Regions from separate parts of the Homo sapiens genome. Here region 2 is reported to be linked to region 1. The links are microRNA targets in miRTarBase. Many come from high-throughput screens and were not tested one by one. Region 1 holds a microRNA gene; the other region holds the end of a gene's coding sequence.

Region 1 (7,836 bases):
AACATAATAAAAGCCATAAGTAAAAATCCCACAGCTAATAACATACTCAATGTGAAAGACTGAAAGTTTTTCCTGTAAGATCAAGAATGAGGCAAGGATGCCAACTCTAACTGCTTCTGTTCAACATAGTACTGAAAGTACTAGCTGAAGCAATTTGGCAAGAAAAAGAAATAAAAGGCATCCAAATTAAAAAAAGAAGTAAAATTATCTATGCTTACAGACAACATGATCTTATGTGTAGAAAACCCTTAAAGGTTACACAACAAAAAGTTAAAGTAGTAAACAAATTCAGCAAGGTTGCAGGATATAAAATCAACACATAAATTTCAATTTAGTTTTTATACACTAACAATGAACAATCCAAAAAGGAAATTAAGAAAACAATTGCATTTACAATGGCATCAAAAAGAATAAAATTGGCCAGGCATGGTGGCTCATGCCTGTAACACCAGCAATTTGGGAGGCTGAGGCGGGTGGATCACCTGAGGTCAGGAGTTCGAGACGAGCCTGGTCAATTTGGTGAAACCCTGTCTCTACTAAAAATACAAAAATTAGCTGGGTGTGGTGGTGCGTGCCTGTAGTCCCAGCTACTTGGGAGGCCGAGGTGGAAGAATCACTTGAACCCAGGAGGCAGAGGTTGCAGTGAGCCGAGATAATGCCACTGCGCTCCAGCCTGGGCGACAGAGTGAGACTCTGTCTCAAAAAACAAAACAAAACAAAGAAACAAAAAACCCATAGAAATAAAATTAATCAAGGAAGTGAAAGACTTGTATCCTAAAAACTACAAAATATTGCTTAAGAAGACACAAATACATGTATAAAAATTAGAGTCCTACTTCACACAGTACATAAAAAAATCAAGCCCAGATAGACTAGAGACCTAATGTGAAAGAAAAAACTAGAAAGCTTTTACAAGATAGTATAGGAGAGTATCTTCATGACCTGAAGGTAGGAAAGAATATCTTAAGAGCAGTAACAAAAAGCACTACCCAAAGCAGCCCAAGAATAGCTGTTGGTAGCCAGCCTGAAAAGAGAGGCTTGGTTGTCTTGGCAACAAGAAAAACAGCCCAAATATTCCCAGATATTTGACCAACTGACTCCTACTCAAAGGCAAGGTCAAAGGGATGCTTAAGGGTATGTTCCAAGTTCCCTCACCCGTCTCCACGTGGGAGTTGGTGGAGCAGTGCTTGCAGTAGAGGAAGGCATGCGTGCCCAGCCAGCCTTTTGGCTCAGCTTTTGAGGCACAGCAGCACTACCAGGACCTCAGCGTTTCACACCAGGGCAGCTGGTGCAAAGAAAACTGGGTGGAGCTAAGACTACCTTCCGGGACCTGGATAAGACCTGAGATCCTGGGGCTTTCTCTGCCAGCTTAAGCCCAGGGAAAGCATTCAGCTAGTCAGTTACATCCCAGAGTAAACCATCCCCCTATCATGCTGACCACAAGCCCAGCTCCTGGGTCTATCCTCACTGGGAGTGGACACGAGAGGGAGGAAGTTTGAGGAAAGAGAAGACGTGCCTGATAGGAAAGATGGCTTCTTCTCTCAGAGCCTCTGTTCCCTCATAACAATGCCAATGATCTTACTGGGTTTCTGTGAGGAATAAATGACATGAGGCACTGTGTGTAACACACAGATGCTATTGAAAAAGAGCAGCTGGCCAGGCGCGGTGGCTCAAGCCTGTAATCCCAGCACTTGGGGAGGCTGAGGTGGGCAGATCTCGAGGTCAGGAGTTCGAGACCAGCCTAACCAACATGGTGAAACACCGTCTCTACTAAAAAAACAAAAATTAACTGGGTGTGGTGGCACACGCCTGTAATCCCAGCTGCTCTGGAGGCTGAGGCAGGAGAATCACTTGAACCCGGGAGGTGGAGGTTGCAGTGAACCAAGATGTCGCCACTGCCCTCCAGCCTGGGCGACAGAGAGAGACTCCATCTAAAAAAAAAAAAGAAAAAGAAAGAAGAAAGAAAGAAAAAGAAAGAAAGAAAGAAAAAGAAAGAGAGAAAGAAAGAGAAAGAAAGAAAGAAAGAAGCTAAGGTCATTACTACCCCTCACACATGGAGGGCAGCTGAATTCTGCCTCTCTGGAGATCCAGAAGCCTTCCTTCTCCAATGCAGTAGAATGTGACAGCAAGGAAGGAGTGAAGGAAAGGGTTTGGTGATCACCTCAAAATCCTTTCCAATCAAACTACTTGAGTTTTCTGTGAAAGCCAAAGGACATCTCCAAGTGGAAGGAAAGTCATAAGAATGTGTTTTTTTATTTTTTTGTTTGTTTTTTCATTTTAGAAAATGTAATGTGTCACAGTGATATGGTTTGACTCTGTGTCCCCACCCAAATCTCATCTTGAATTGTACTCCCATAATTCCCATGTGTTGTGGGAGGGACCTGGTGGGAGATAATTGGAATCATGGGGGCGATTTCCCCCATACTGTTCTCATGGTAGTGAATAAGTCTCACGAGATCTGATGGTTTTATCAGGGGTTTCCGCCTTTACATCTTCCTCATTTTTCTCTTCCCATTTTTCTCTTGCTGTCATCATGTGAGAAGTGGATTTCACCACCCACCATGATTCTGAGGCCTCCCCAGCCATGTGGAACTGTAAGTCCAATTAAACCTCTTTATCCTCCCAGTCTCGGGTATGTCTTCATCACACAGTGAGAACAGAAAGCAGACAGTGAGAAGCATACTGGCGACGTAAGGCAATTTTGACTAGAAAGTGGAACTTAACTATGAACTATCTGTTTCAGAGAGGATAGAAGCACCAGAACTACTAGCTAATTGTCAGCAGGCAATTATCTGAGGATGCAGGAGAGGAAGGGGGCTTCTTTTTGACGCCTACTTCATCAGCTGCTCCTCAGATCAGAGCCTTGCAGGTCAGGCCAGAGGGGAGACTCAGGAAGTGTTTTTGGTGTTTGTTCCAAATGGGGGCTCATTGTGGGCCCTGTGTCACTGGAATTACAATATCTGTTCAATCTAATTCCCTGGGGCTTTAAGTCTTACAAATTGGCGCTGGCCTCAGCAATGAAAAAAATAGGTGAAGTCTTGGAGTCTTTTCGACCCAGGCTAGTGTGGGATTGTTTCCTCATTTGCATCCACTTACAGAAAGTTCCAGTGATTTCCTTTGGTGACTCTACAGCCAAATGAATGGTCCTGCTAGCGTGTTTTATTGCAGTTTGTCCTTTTGCTTCTTTAATATTCCAGACAGACACATCTCCCCCCTGGGCCCTCCACACACTTTCCTCTCCATTCCAGTAATACTTAGCTTGAGGAGGTGGTTCCTGTACACACAATTCCCCACCTTTCACTCATGGGCCTCCCTCTGACTAGAATGGATACAGATGTAATAAGGGAGTCCCAACCCTCTGGCTTAGGTGACAAAGCTATTTCAATAAAAGTATACTTTTTTTTTCTGACTGCTCGTGTGTTATAACATCATGTGAAAATGGCTAGATAGATGTTGTCTGCATTTGGAGGTAGCTTTATAATGGTCAGACTCAGAAGATATGTTACATGGAATATACAAAATTGATTTGGGGGAGTCCTGGGAAGGACCCCCAAAAGCTAAGTCTTCCAGGGCAGCTGCAATTGAGGTTCGGAGAGAGACTCACCATACCTACAAGATGGCATGGATACAAAACACACAGTCGTTTCAAATATAAGCCCAATTCAAAACAGTATGTACATTCCTCAAATGCCAGGGGTCAATTTGCAAACTGCTACGTACAGGGGCGATTCTACAGTAGCGTACTACTCAGGCAAACAGGAGACAGGCATGTTTCTAAGAATGGGTTATGAATCTCCTGAGCAAACAGAGGAGGCTGGCTAAAGCGAGTAGGAAATATATCAAATCAGTATCCGCCAGAGGCAGATGGCAAGTTGACAGCCAGAACTGGGCCCCTCCAATCCTGAATCAATAGTTCCTGCTCCCCAGGGTTGACTGAGCCCCTTGCTCGGGGGAAGGGGAGAAAGAAAATCCCATTACCAACCAATGCCAAGTCCTCATATTTGGCTCATTTAGGGTCAGCTACAGGTGGTCCGCAGCCATAGAGCTGCCAGATAAAATACACGGCCCCTGGCTAAATTTAAATTTCTGATAAACAGTGGACAATTTTGAGTATAAGTATGTCCGAATATTGCATGGAATATACTTATACTAAGAATGTACTTGGGATTCAAATTTAACTGAGCATCCTGTATTTTTGATAAATAGGCAACCCTACTCAGGCAAGCCATCAGGATGAGTTTGGCAGCAGGAAGGTGGCCATAGTCAGGCCTCTGGTTGCCCTGTTTTCAGGGAGCTGGTCAGGTTATTATCAGGCATTGGGCTGGGAACCCCATCACCAGAACTGTGATAGAGGGTAGGGTTTAGTCTGAGGGTCAAAGCAAGATCTTATACACTAGAACAAGTTTATAAAGTCCCAGCAGGGACTAGTATATAAACCCTCAAGAGCAAACTCAGCAGGAGTCACTGGATGACAGACCTAGACATCCTTAAATTGCCAAGGGCTAGGGGCAGGGCTGAGTTAACAGCAGGATTTCTCTAGAAGGGATTCCTGGGCTGCTTGCATTAGAATCACCTGAGACACTTGGGAAACATGCAGATTCCAGGGCCCCGTACAGACCTGCCAAGTCACACTCTCTAGGGGAAGGCCTAGAAAGCTGCAATTTCTTAATACTCCTGGCTGCTCTGTCATGCACTAAATTTGAGACCCAGTGCTCTAGAGCCAGGAACCAGGTGTGGCCTGCAAATAAGCCATGAGGCACAGTGGTTAAAGCACAGATTCTGGAGCCAGACTGCCCAAGTTAGACTTCTGGCTCTACCACTTATTACCTGTGTGACCTGGGGCAAGTGACTTAACCTCTCTGGGCCTCACTTTCTTCATCTGTAAAGCAGGCATAGTAATAGTGCCTATTTCATAGGCCTATTGTGAGGATTAAATGAGAATATATGAGCAAAGCACTCAGAACAGTCTGGCATCTAGGAAGCACACATTCATATGTGTTAGCTATTATTAGGAGCTGAGTGGACCTGCAGGGTTCGCAGAAAGAGGACTGGTTTGGGGCTTAATGGGTACCCATGGCCTATGTCCTGCAGTGGGGTGGCTGAAGCAGAACTCACAGAGCAAGTGGAGGAGGGCTTTTTGCATGAGAAGTCATGAGGATGATTAATAAAAGGGACAGTCGTTAAATGCACGGGTGATCATGCTTGGCTAGAATGAGAAGCTAAGAAAATGGATATTGTTCATTAAGCTCTAATTAGCAGATAAATTGTACAAGGGGAAGGGAGTCCAAGTGTTACTACAAGTAATTAATGTGCGTCTTCTCTCCCTGGTCACCCTTTGATTTGAACCACCTAACCTGTAGTCTTTATCAGACACTAAGATCCTGGAAATACTGGCTGCTAATTATTTTGGTGAGCCCCTGATTGCACTAAAGGAAATGCATGTGTCCTGCTCTCTCTAATGACTCAAGCACAAGGAGAAGATAAAGTGGTTCTAACCATGATGAATTAAGCCTGGGGGATTTGGAGAGGACAATCATTCTCTCTGTTCATTTCACAAATGTGAACGGTGTCTCCAAGTTGGTAAAGTAAATGTGACCAGACGCAGTCTGATTAGGAAAAAAATCAGTACCTGTCCCAAACTGCTCTTGAGTTGGCTAATGTTGTGACTTGGCTTGTTCTCGGTTCCAATGACTTCATTCCTGCCTAAATCCCTACTCAGTTCCTTTGAAGATTCAACCTTACCATTGGAGTCTTGGCCCCACTTTCGACCTGGAACCAGAGCTCCCTTAGCCTGGACTGGCCCCACGCTCCGTTGAAACCCAGTTTCTCCTGCCTGAGCTCTCCCAGCCACCTATGCACTTGGGATCTCACCTATTTCTAGGCCAACCATACTTCCTACTTTCATACTGAAACGATGTAAAGGAATTTGATTGTTCTTTCTTGTGGAAAAAGATACAAACTGTGTCAGTGAAGCATCTCGGGGGTTGTGGGGGGCAGTGAAAAGGCAAGTCACTCTGTATGTCCCTTTCCATCTGACACACTCACAGGGGCCTGGGATGCTAGTGTGTGCCCATTGGTTGGCTTCTGCCAGGAATTGGAGCCTGGGTGTGCTAGGTGCAGAGTCTCCTGATATCGCAGAGAGCCCCTGTTCTCAATGGAAGTGCAACAGAGTAGAGTCTAGACAGAGTATTAGAAACTTTCAGGATAATAATCATGATAATAGCCAGTGGTTTTTGAATGCTTTTTCTGTTCTGGGTAGTGTTCTCAGTGCTTATATGCATTATCTCATTTAACTTTCCTATCAACCCTATGATGAGGCACTGTGATTATCTGCATTTTATAGTGAGGTGGCTGAGACACAGAGACGCTAAGTAACTTGCCCAAGGTCACATATCTGACTAGTAGTAAAGCTGGGTTCTGGGCTTGTTTTTACTTTCAAGAATTGAGTCAAATGTAGTCCCACTTCATTAAGCTGCTGGGATGGGAGGAGCAGGAGGGGCAGGGCCTGGATGGGTGAAGCAGCCAAGAGGCTCCTATGTAACTTCCTATGAAGAGGTAGTTGTCTCCAAACATGTGGAAACAAATTGAGAATGTTCTGCTTGTATTCAAGCTGAAAGACATTTTCATTCTTATTGGGTTTGCATCAAATTCTCATTTTGCTAGTCTTATACATTAGAGTATCAACCAATGGTCCCATGTAGCTTTAACAAATGATCTAATAAATTGAGAGAAGCATTGGCCAGAGAAAGTTGGAGTGCTTGGAACAGGCCTTGGCTGGCTGTCCAGCTCCACCTGGGGGAGACGGGAGGTGTGAGCTGGCACTAAGAGGCCCTCTGCCTGTCTAACTTGGACCAGGGTTGCTTGGGGCTAAAAGAGAGCCCAAAATGTTCATAGCAGCATTATTCACAATAGTCAAAAGTGGAAAGAACTCAAGCATCCACCAATGAATGAGTAAATGAAATGTGGTGTATCTATACAATGGAATATTATTCAGCCATAAAAAGGAATGAAGTGTTGACCTATGCTACTACATTGATGAACCTGAAAACATTATGCTAAGGGAAAAAAGCCAGATGCAAAGGCCACATATTGTGAGATTCTGTTTTGGTGAAATGTCCAGAATAGGCAAGTCCATAGAAAGTGAAAGCAGATTTATGGTTTCTAGGAGCTGGAAGGTGGCGGGGAGTCTGGAGTGACTACTAATTGGTATGAGGGTTCTTTTTGGGGTGTTGAAAATGTTCTGAAATTAGATAGTGATGATGATTGCACAACTTTGTGTATATACAAAAAACTACTGAATTCTACACTTTAAAGGGTGAATATTATGGTATATGAGGTATATGAATTACATCTCAATAAAAACAGGCAAACAAACAAAAACCAGAACAACAGCAACAAAAAAGAGAACACAAAGTCCACACTATTAAGACCCAGAGCAAAACACCGTCTTGGCCGGACGCGGTGGCTCACACCTGTAATCCCAGCACTTTGAGGGGCGGAGACGGGCGGATCACAAGATCAGGAGATCGAGACCATCCTGGCTAACATTGTGAAACCCCGCCTCTACTAAAAATACAAAAAATTAGCTGGGCGTGTTGGCAGGTGCCTGTAGTCCCAGAGCTACTCGGGAGGCTGAGGCAGGAGAATGGCGTGAACCCAGGAGGCAGAGCTTGCAGTGAGCCGAGATCGCGCCACTGCACTCCAGCCTGGGCGACAGAGCAAGACTCCATCTCAAAAAAACAAAAACAAAAACAACAACAAAAAAACAAAAACAAGCGAACAAACAAAACAAACAAACAAACAAAAACCACTGTCTGATGAAGCTGGGTTGTGGGA
Region 2 (7,836 bases), not on the chromosome of region 1:
ACAGAGATTAAAATAATTAAAAAGTGTCAAGCATAAATTCTGGAGCTGAAAAATGCAATTGGCATACTGAAGAATGATGCCTTGTTTAGAAAACCTCATCGTTTTAGCCCAAAAGCTTCTTAAGCTGATAAGCAACTTTGGCAAAGTCTCAGGATACAAAATCAACGTGCAAAATTCATTAGCATTTCTATATATCAACAACAGACAAGCAGACAGTCATATCATGAATGAACTCCCATTCACAATTGCTACAAAGAGAATAAAATATCTAGGAATGCAGCTAACAAGGGAAGTGAAGGACTTCTTCAAGGAGAACTACAAACCACTGCTCAAAGAAATCAGAGAGGATGCAAACTAATGAAAAAACATTCGATGCTCATGGATAAGAAGAATCAATAATGTGAAAATGGCCATACTGCCCAAAGTAATTTATAGATTCAATGCTATTTCCGTGAAACTACTGTTGACATTCTTCACACAATTAGAAAAAAATATTTTAAAATGTATATGAAACAATAAAAGAGCTCAAATAACCAAGATAATCCTAAACAAAAAGAACAAAGATGGAGGCATCATGCTACCCAACTTCAAACTGTACTACAAAACTATAGTAATCAAAACAGCATAGTACTTGTACAAGAACAGACACAAAGATCAATGGGACAGAACGCAGAACTCAGAAATAAGACCACACACCTAAAACCAACTGACTTTCAGCAAACCTGGCAAAAGCAAGCAATGGGAAAATGATTCCCTATTTAAAAAACAGTGCTGGGAGAACTAGAACCATATGCAGAAAATTGAAACTGGACCCCTTCCTTGCACCTTATGCAAAAATTAACTCAAGATGGATTAAGGACTTAAAAGTAAAACTCAAAACTCATGTGGCTTTGGGTTGTTTGTTTGTTTGTTTGTTTTTTGAGACAGGTTTCATTCTGTCACCCAGGCTGGAATTCAGTGGCATGATCTCTTCTCACTGCAACCTCTGCCTCCCAGGTTCAAGAAATTCTCCTGCCCCAACCTCCTGAGTAGCTGAGGCTACAGACTTGCACCACCACACTTGGCTAATTTTTGTAATTTTACTAGAGACAGGGTCTCACTATCTTATACAGGCTGGTCTCAAACTCGAGGCCTCAAGTGATTCTCCCACCTCCACTTCCCAAAGTGCTGGGATTACAGGTGTTAGCCACCACACCTGGCCTTTCTTGCTGCTTTCAAGATCTTTTCCTTTGTCTTTACTGGTCATGGTTTAGCTATGATATTTGGGGTGTTAATTTTGTTTTGTTTTGTTTTCTTCTTTCACTTGAATTACTTATTGACATGTCCTAAATAGGGACAGTGAATATTAATCTAGAATTACCAATTATAATATAAACACTATTAAAATATTAGATTTCAATGATAAACAAACACTGAAAGCTCTCAGGAAAACCATTACATAATTTACAATAGGAAAATAATTAGGCTATTCATCGGAATTTTCAAAAGTGACATTCAAAGAAAGACAAAAAGAAAAGCATTTTAAAGAACCTAATAAAAGAAAGCGTTATCCAAGTTCTTTATATTTAACAAAGCTGCCCTCCATATATCAATGGAGTAGAACAACAGCTTCCTACATACAAAAAGTAGACATTTTTGCATCCACAAGCCCATATAGAGTAACACCCTAGAGGGTGAGCATCATCTAATCAAGGGATGAATGGGAAGTGTTAAGCAAAGTATTGAATATATATGTGTGTATGTGTGCATCTGTGAGTGTGTGGGGATACAAACATATGTGTTTTGGTATGAATGTATGTGTGTATGTATGTGTGTGATGATATGAATTTGGTGTGCTACCAAATATAGGGATTAGATGGGAGGATTAATAATACATAAATAATATATTTTGTGATGGAAAAGTAGTTATAATCCAACTAAATGACAAAGGGATAATAGAAGAAGAATGGAAGAGGAAAAGAGAACAAGCTAATTGTTGTTTTATAGACGAGAGGAAGTTAAATAATATTAATATAAGCTATTGTGTCAGATAATAAAATGTTAAATTTAAAAAGAGGGAACAGAGAACATTAAAATTAGTATATATACAAAGGTAACCAGATAGCCACTAATATAACTACCAACCATCAAAATACCATTTAAAAATTTTTTTTATTTTTGTGGGTATTCATTAAAGCATAAAGAATAGGACCAAACATACCAGTCATGGCAATACATGTGAATTTAATTAATTAAAATAAACATTTTAAATTTGGCTGTTGAACTAAGCCTAACTATATGTTTTATATAAACACCTGAAACAAAATGATTTCAAAATGCAAAATTAAAGCCATGCACAAAGGTGTCTGGGAAAAAAATCCCAATAGAAAACATAACAACTCCACTGTCAGATAGATAGAAATGAGGGAAAAGGCATTAAAAGTGATAAAGAAGAAAACTTACCAAGCAAGAGACACGCAAATCACAAGATATCTATTATATATATATATGTATATTTATGCACCAAATAATGCTAAGACCCCCTTTATGAAGACACAGATACCAGATACATGCCACTGAGAGACATAAGTAGAAACACACTAATAAGCAGCACTCTTGGAACAAGACAGATCAAGTGGAAAAAATAAACAAGCAGAGATAAGATCTAAACAATATATTCAAAAGGTAGCTCTCATTTATATAGACTGACCTTTATGCCTTGATAATAATGACCTTTATGCCCTGATAATAAATAATATACCTTTTTTCTCCAGTTCTCATGGAACATCCACACAAAGGTCATACATAATGTCCGGCAGAAAAGATTCGTTTTATAAAACAGAAATAATGGGAAAGGTACTCTCTGATGTCACACAACAATATTAATAACTACTAACAAGAACAAAGAACAGAAAAATCCTTTAACCTGGAAAGTAACAAGCCTTGTATTTAAAAAAATGTTCTTTGTTGAAAGAAGACATACAAATATAATTACCAGTTTTCAATAATTAATGATAGTTTAAATAATCTGTAACAGGGCCTATGAGAAATATTTTTAAAGTGGTTAGGAACAATTCATAGCACTGACATGTTATCAGTAAAAATAGAAGAAAATAAATTAATATTATGAAATATTAATTATATTTCATTAATTATGTAATATGAATTATGTTTTAGCTCAAATATTTCCCAAGGGACAATTAAGTAAATGAAAAATACACACAGATTAAAATAATAAATAGAGAAGGAGATATTAATGAGGTACAAAAAGAAAAAATACATGTAATCACATGAAATGCTATTATTTGAAAGATTAACAAAACTTGTAAACTACCTGCTAACTTGATCAAAGAAAAAAATCGAGAAACCATATGCGCAATTAATAGTAAGAGGGAAATAAACATTGAAACAGAAGACATTTGAAATACCATATAAGACTGGGTTTCAGAGCTCTATGTACGTAAATTGATAATGTCCTGGAGAAGTGCAGATGACCAAAATGGACACCTTTCAACTTAGAAATCATAAACAGATTCATTTCCTTAAAGTTAATGAAAAGAATTAACAGACCCTCCTCAAAAAAGACATATATGCGGCCTACAATCATATGAAAAAAAGTTCAACATTACTGTTCATTAGAGAAATGCAAATCAAAACCACAATGAGATACCATCTCACACCAGTCAGAATGGCTATTATTAAGAAGTCAAAAAATAAAAGATGCTGGCGAGGTTGTGGAGAAAAAAGAATGCTTTTATACACTTGGTGGGAATGTAAATTAGTTCAGTCATTGTGGAAGACTTTGATGATTCCTAGAAGACCTAAATACAGAACTACTATTTGACCCAACAATCCCATTACTGGGTATATACTCAAATGACTATAAATCATTCTATTATAAAGACACATGCATGGATATGTTCATTACAGCACTATGCACAATAGCAAAGACTTGGAATCAACATGAATGTCCATCAATGATAGACTAGATAAAGAAAATGTGGTACACATATACCATGGAATACTATGCAGCCATAAAAATGAAGGAGATCATGCCCTTTGCAGGGACACGAATAGAGGTGGAGGCCATTATCCTCAGCAAACTAACTCAGGAACAGAAAACCAAACACGGCATGTTCTCACTTATAAGTGAGAGCTAAACGATGAGAACACATGGACACATAGAGGGCACACAATGGGGACTAGCGGAGGGTGGAAGGTGGAAGGAGAGAGAGAAGCAGGAAAAACAACTAATGGGTACTAGCTTATTACCTGGGTGATGAAATAATCTGTACAACAAACCCCTATGACACTGTGACACAAATTACCTAAGTAGCAAACCTGCATGTGTACCCCGAACCTAAAATAAAAGTGTTTTTGTTTGTTTGTTTGTTTCTGTTTTTTTGTTTGTTTGTTTGTTTTGGTTTTTTTTTTTTGAGACTGAGTCTCACTCTCTCCCCAGGCTGGAGTGCAGTGACGCAATCTCGGCTCACTGCAAGCTCCAACTTCCATGTTCAAGCGATTCTCCTGCCTCAGCCTCCCGAGTAGCTGGGATTACAGGCACGCACCACCACATCCAGCTAATTTTTGTATTTTTTGTAGAGACAGGGTTTCACCATCTTGGCCAGGATTATCTCAATCTCCTGACCTCATGATCTGAGCGCCTAGGCCTCCCAAAGTGCTGGGATTACAGGCATGAGCCACAGCACCCGGCCAAAGTTTTTTAAAAAAGGACTTTAAGGGACAGTTTTTAAATAAAGAAGAAAAATAAAAATTAACAACAGAAAAGCCCAAACCCAGATGATTTCTCAGGAGACTTCTACCAAATATTTAAAGACAAAGCAATCCCAATATTGTACAAATTGTCAAAGAGCACTTAAAATGAAGGACAACTTCCTAATTCCTATTATGAAGGGTGTATAGTCATCCCCACTTATCCCAAAGGATAAGTTCCAAGATGCCCAGTGAATACTTGAAACCAAGATAGTAACAAAGCCTATATGTAGTATGTTTTTTCTGTATACATACATACCTGTGATAAAGTTTAATTTACAAAATAGTCACAGTAAGAGATTAACAACAATATCTAATAATAGAAGGAACGTATAACAATTACTGTAAAAACAAGTTATGTAAATACAGTCTTTCTCTCTCCCCACCCATCTCTCTCTCTCTCTCTGAAAATAGTTTAATATTTTCTCACAGTGGCTGATCTTGGGTAACTGAAACTACAGAAACTGAAATTATGGTTAAGGGAAAACTACTGTATGCACTGAATTTGCAGTGAGAAGAATCAACATGCCCAGTGATTGCTGCCTCCACATGTCCGTACTCTTGTGTAAGCCCCTCTCTGTGAGTGAGGGTGAGACCTGTTGCTTTTAGCCAATAGAATATGGTGTATGTTTATGATTATGTGTGCTTATGTGATTATGTTACATAAGACTGTAGTACCCATCTTGCTGGAGTCTCTTGCCCTCCCTTGCTGGTTTTGAAAAACAAGCAATTATGTTTCAAAACCCCTTTGACAAGGAACTGTGAGCATCCTTTTGGAGGTGAGGGTTGCCTCCAAAAGATAGCTAGCAAGGCACTGCAACAAATGGCCAACAAGAAAATGAAAATGAGCCCTTTAGTCCTACAACTGCAAGGAACTGAATTCTGCTAACAAAGGCATGACCTTGGAAATGGATCCTTCCCCAGATAAGCCCTGGGTACAATCAGCCCCATTTAAGATCTTGAATTGCAGCCTTGTGAGACTTTGAAGCTTCTCGGTTTATACCTGAAATAGTGTTTTTATTTAATTATTATGGCCCACTATGCAGGTCAAATAGCTTTATAACCTATTACTAGCTTAGAGTATACTAGATTATAAAACTATTCCTTTGGTTATGTCTCATTAAAAAATAGTTTCTTTAAAATGGAAGATTCAAAATGAAGGATATAGTAACAAGCATTCATTTATTTTAGGAGATATGCACAAGAAGGCTTCGGAAAATTAAATTTTTTCTTTGTTATGTGACAGACAGCAGGCAATGCATAACCCAACATATAAATGATAGGTACTTAATTTAGTATTGAGAATTACTCAGCACAACATAAATTCTTCCCCTAGAAGCAAAGGAGGAAACTGAAATTTATTAAAAAGCTTACTTTTCTAAAACAATTGAGCTTTGAATTGGCAAAGAAACCTCTCTAGAAATTGTAAGAAAAATATCTCCCAAAGAATTTAATTGTTAGCTTTCATGCAAACTGAAACAAAAACTATTGGTAAGAAATTTTAAATATTAAATGATTGACATAAACACCAGGTTTCTCTTCTGGATTAAATGTGTTTATTAGGTGAACAGAGAAAAAAGCTCCATCATAAAAGTCATCAAGGCAGATGATGTGACACCATCATTCTGATGAAAGGAGAACTGACAGGTGAATTTTACCTTATCCCGTTTCATGATGGAAATTCAAGATATTTGTAGGTTAGATGGTAGCTCAACAACAGACCATATTAGACTTCCATTGCAGGATATCATCACTCAAGGGAAAATCTCAGAACATGTGGGCTTCAGAATTAGTGAATCTCAGTATCACAGGATAGAGGGTGAGAGTCTCCCATGGCATCCTCAATAATAGTAGCCAGAGCCAGAGCCGCATCCATAGCCATAGCCACAGAGGGAGCGGGAGCCATAGCCATAGCCACAGCCCAGTCTGCGGAAGCCACAGCCACAGCAGGAGCCATAGCCACAGCCCAGGCCTCCATAGCCATAGCCCAGGCCTCCATAGCCACAGAACCCATAGCCAGGGGTGCCATAGTAGTTTCCGTAGTAGCTGCCACACATGGTGTTGGTTGTGGAGGTTGTCCTTGGGTAGGAGGAAGTGTAGGTGACTTCAGTATGAACACTTCCCCTGCAGAGGGCCTTTTATATGCCTCAGTGTGGGTGGGAACCATACACAAGTCATGCCATTGGCTAATTTGAAGGACCAGCATGAGTAATTTGTTGACTCTTGGTTTTCAATCGTGGCCTTGTGGCATTTAGAACATTTTCTATTGTTCAGCCACATCTGAAACATTTGTGCATCTTTAATGAGCATCAACTGTCTGATCTTTAAAACTCTACTCACACCAGACATTCAAATTACCATTTTCCAACCAGCCTTTATGGCAAGAAATAGCATTTTAGTAAACAAACTGACCTGTTCTAAACAACCAATAATTTTACCTTATTTTTGCTGACATTCAACAGGTCATGGTAATCTCCCTTGAGCTTGAGTTTCTCCATCTCTTTCCTGCTGCTCCAAACCCATTGTTTTCCTTTAGGAATTCTTCTCATTTTCACATGAGAGATGGTTTTCTTTTAAAAGCCAGAAAGTGTCACTCAGCTTCCAGAGACTGTTGACACAAAGCCAATAGTTTGAAATTCTAAAATACCAGGCATGAGAAAACTATACTTTTCTTTCTCACATCAATATTTCCTTTTGTGACTGTTTTAAAACAATAGTTCTTTCCCATAGTTTCAAATTCGTAATCAATGAGGTTTCATTTTATTTATAAAATTGTATTTTTATAAAAATTTTCCTGAAATTTCAAGGCATTTGTTATATTTGTGTTCTGGCTCAAAAGTAAGTATAGGTATTTTCATATTTAAAACAATAATACTGGCAGAAGTATCTTTTCATGCAACCTACTATATTTCCACCATCAAACAAGAAGTCTTTGGCAAAATATGAGACTATGAGGAACATGTTACTATAGCCTAATCTTTTTTCAAAGCAGTGAAGATCAGAGCTAAATTGAATGATTAAGTCAAGTAGCCCTCTGGACTTATATTCTTAGTAAGATGACTTTATAAGAGTGAGTTGAATATA

What was found. Region 1 holds the annotated microRNA hsa-miR-4330 (CCUCAGAUCAGAGCCUUGC, at 2,849-2,867, shown strand). A microRNA usually pairs through its seed, bases 2 to 8, with sites in the 3' UTR of a target mRNA and lowers its output. Matches are read on the target gene's strand: a 7mer-m8 pairs with bases 2 to 8, a 7mer-A1 pairs with bases 2 to 7 and ends in A, and an 8mer does both.
Region 2: miRTarBase lists KRTAP6-1 as a target of hsa-miR-4330. Seed matches in the 3' UTR shown: 7mer-A1 at 6,518-6,524.

What each region holds. Positions count from the first base shown.
Region 1 is chrX:151,165,450-151,173,285 of GRCh38, forward strand. It overlaps MIR4330 (microRNA 4330), which reads left to right and starts at 2,773; the gene lies at 2,773-2,877.
Region 2 is chr21:30,607,096-30,614,931 of GRCh38, forward strand. KRTAP6-1 (keratin associated protein 6-1) reads right to left here and starts at 6,835. Exons shown (of 1, transcript NM_181602.2): 1 at 6,336-6,835. The coding sequence starts at 6,809. The coding sequence ends at 6,594.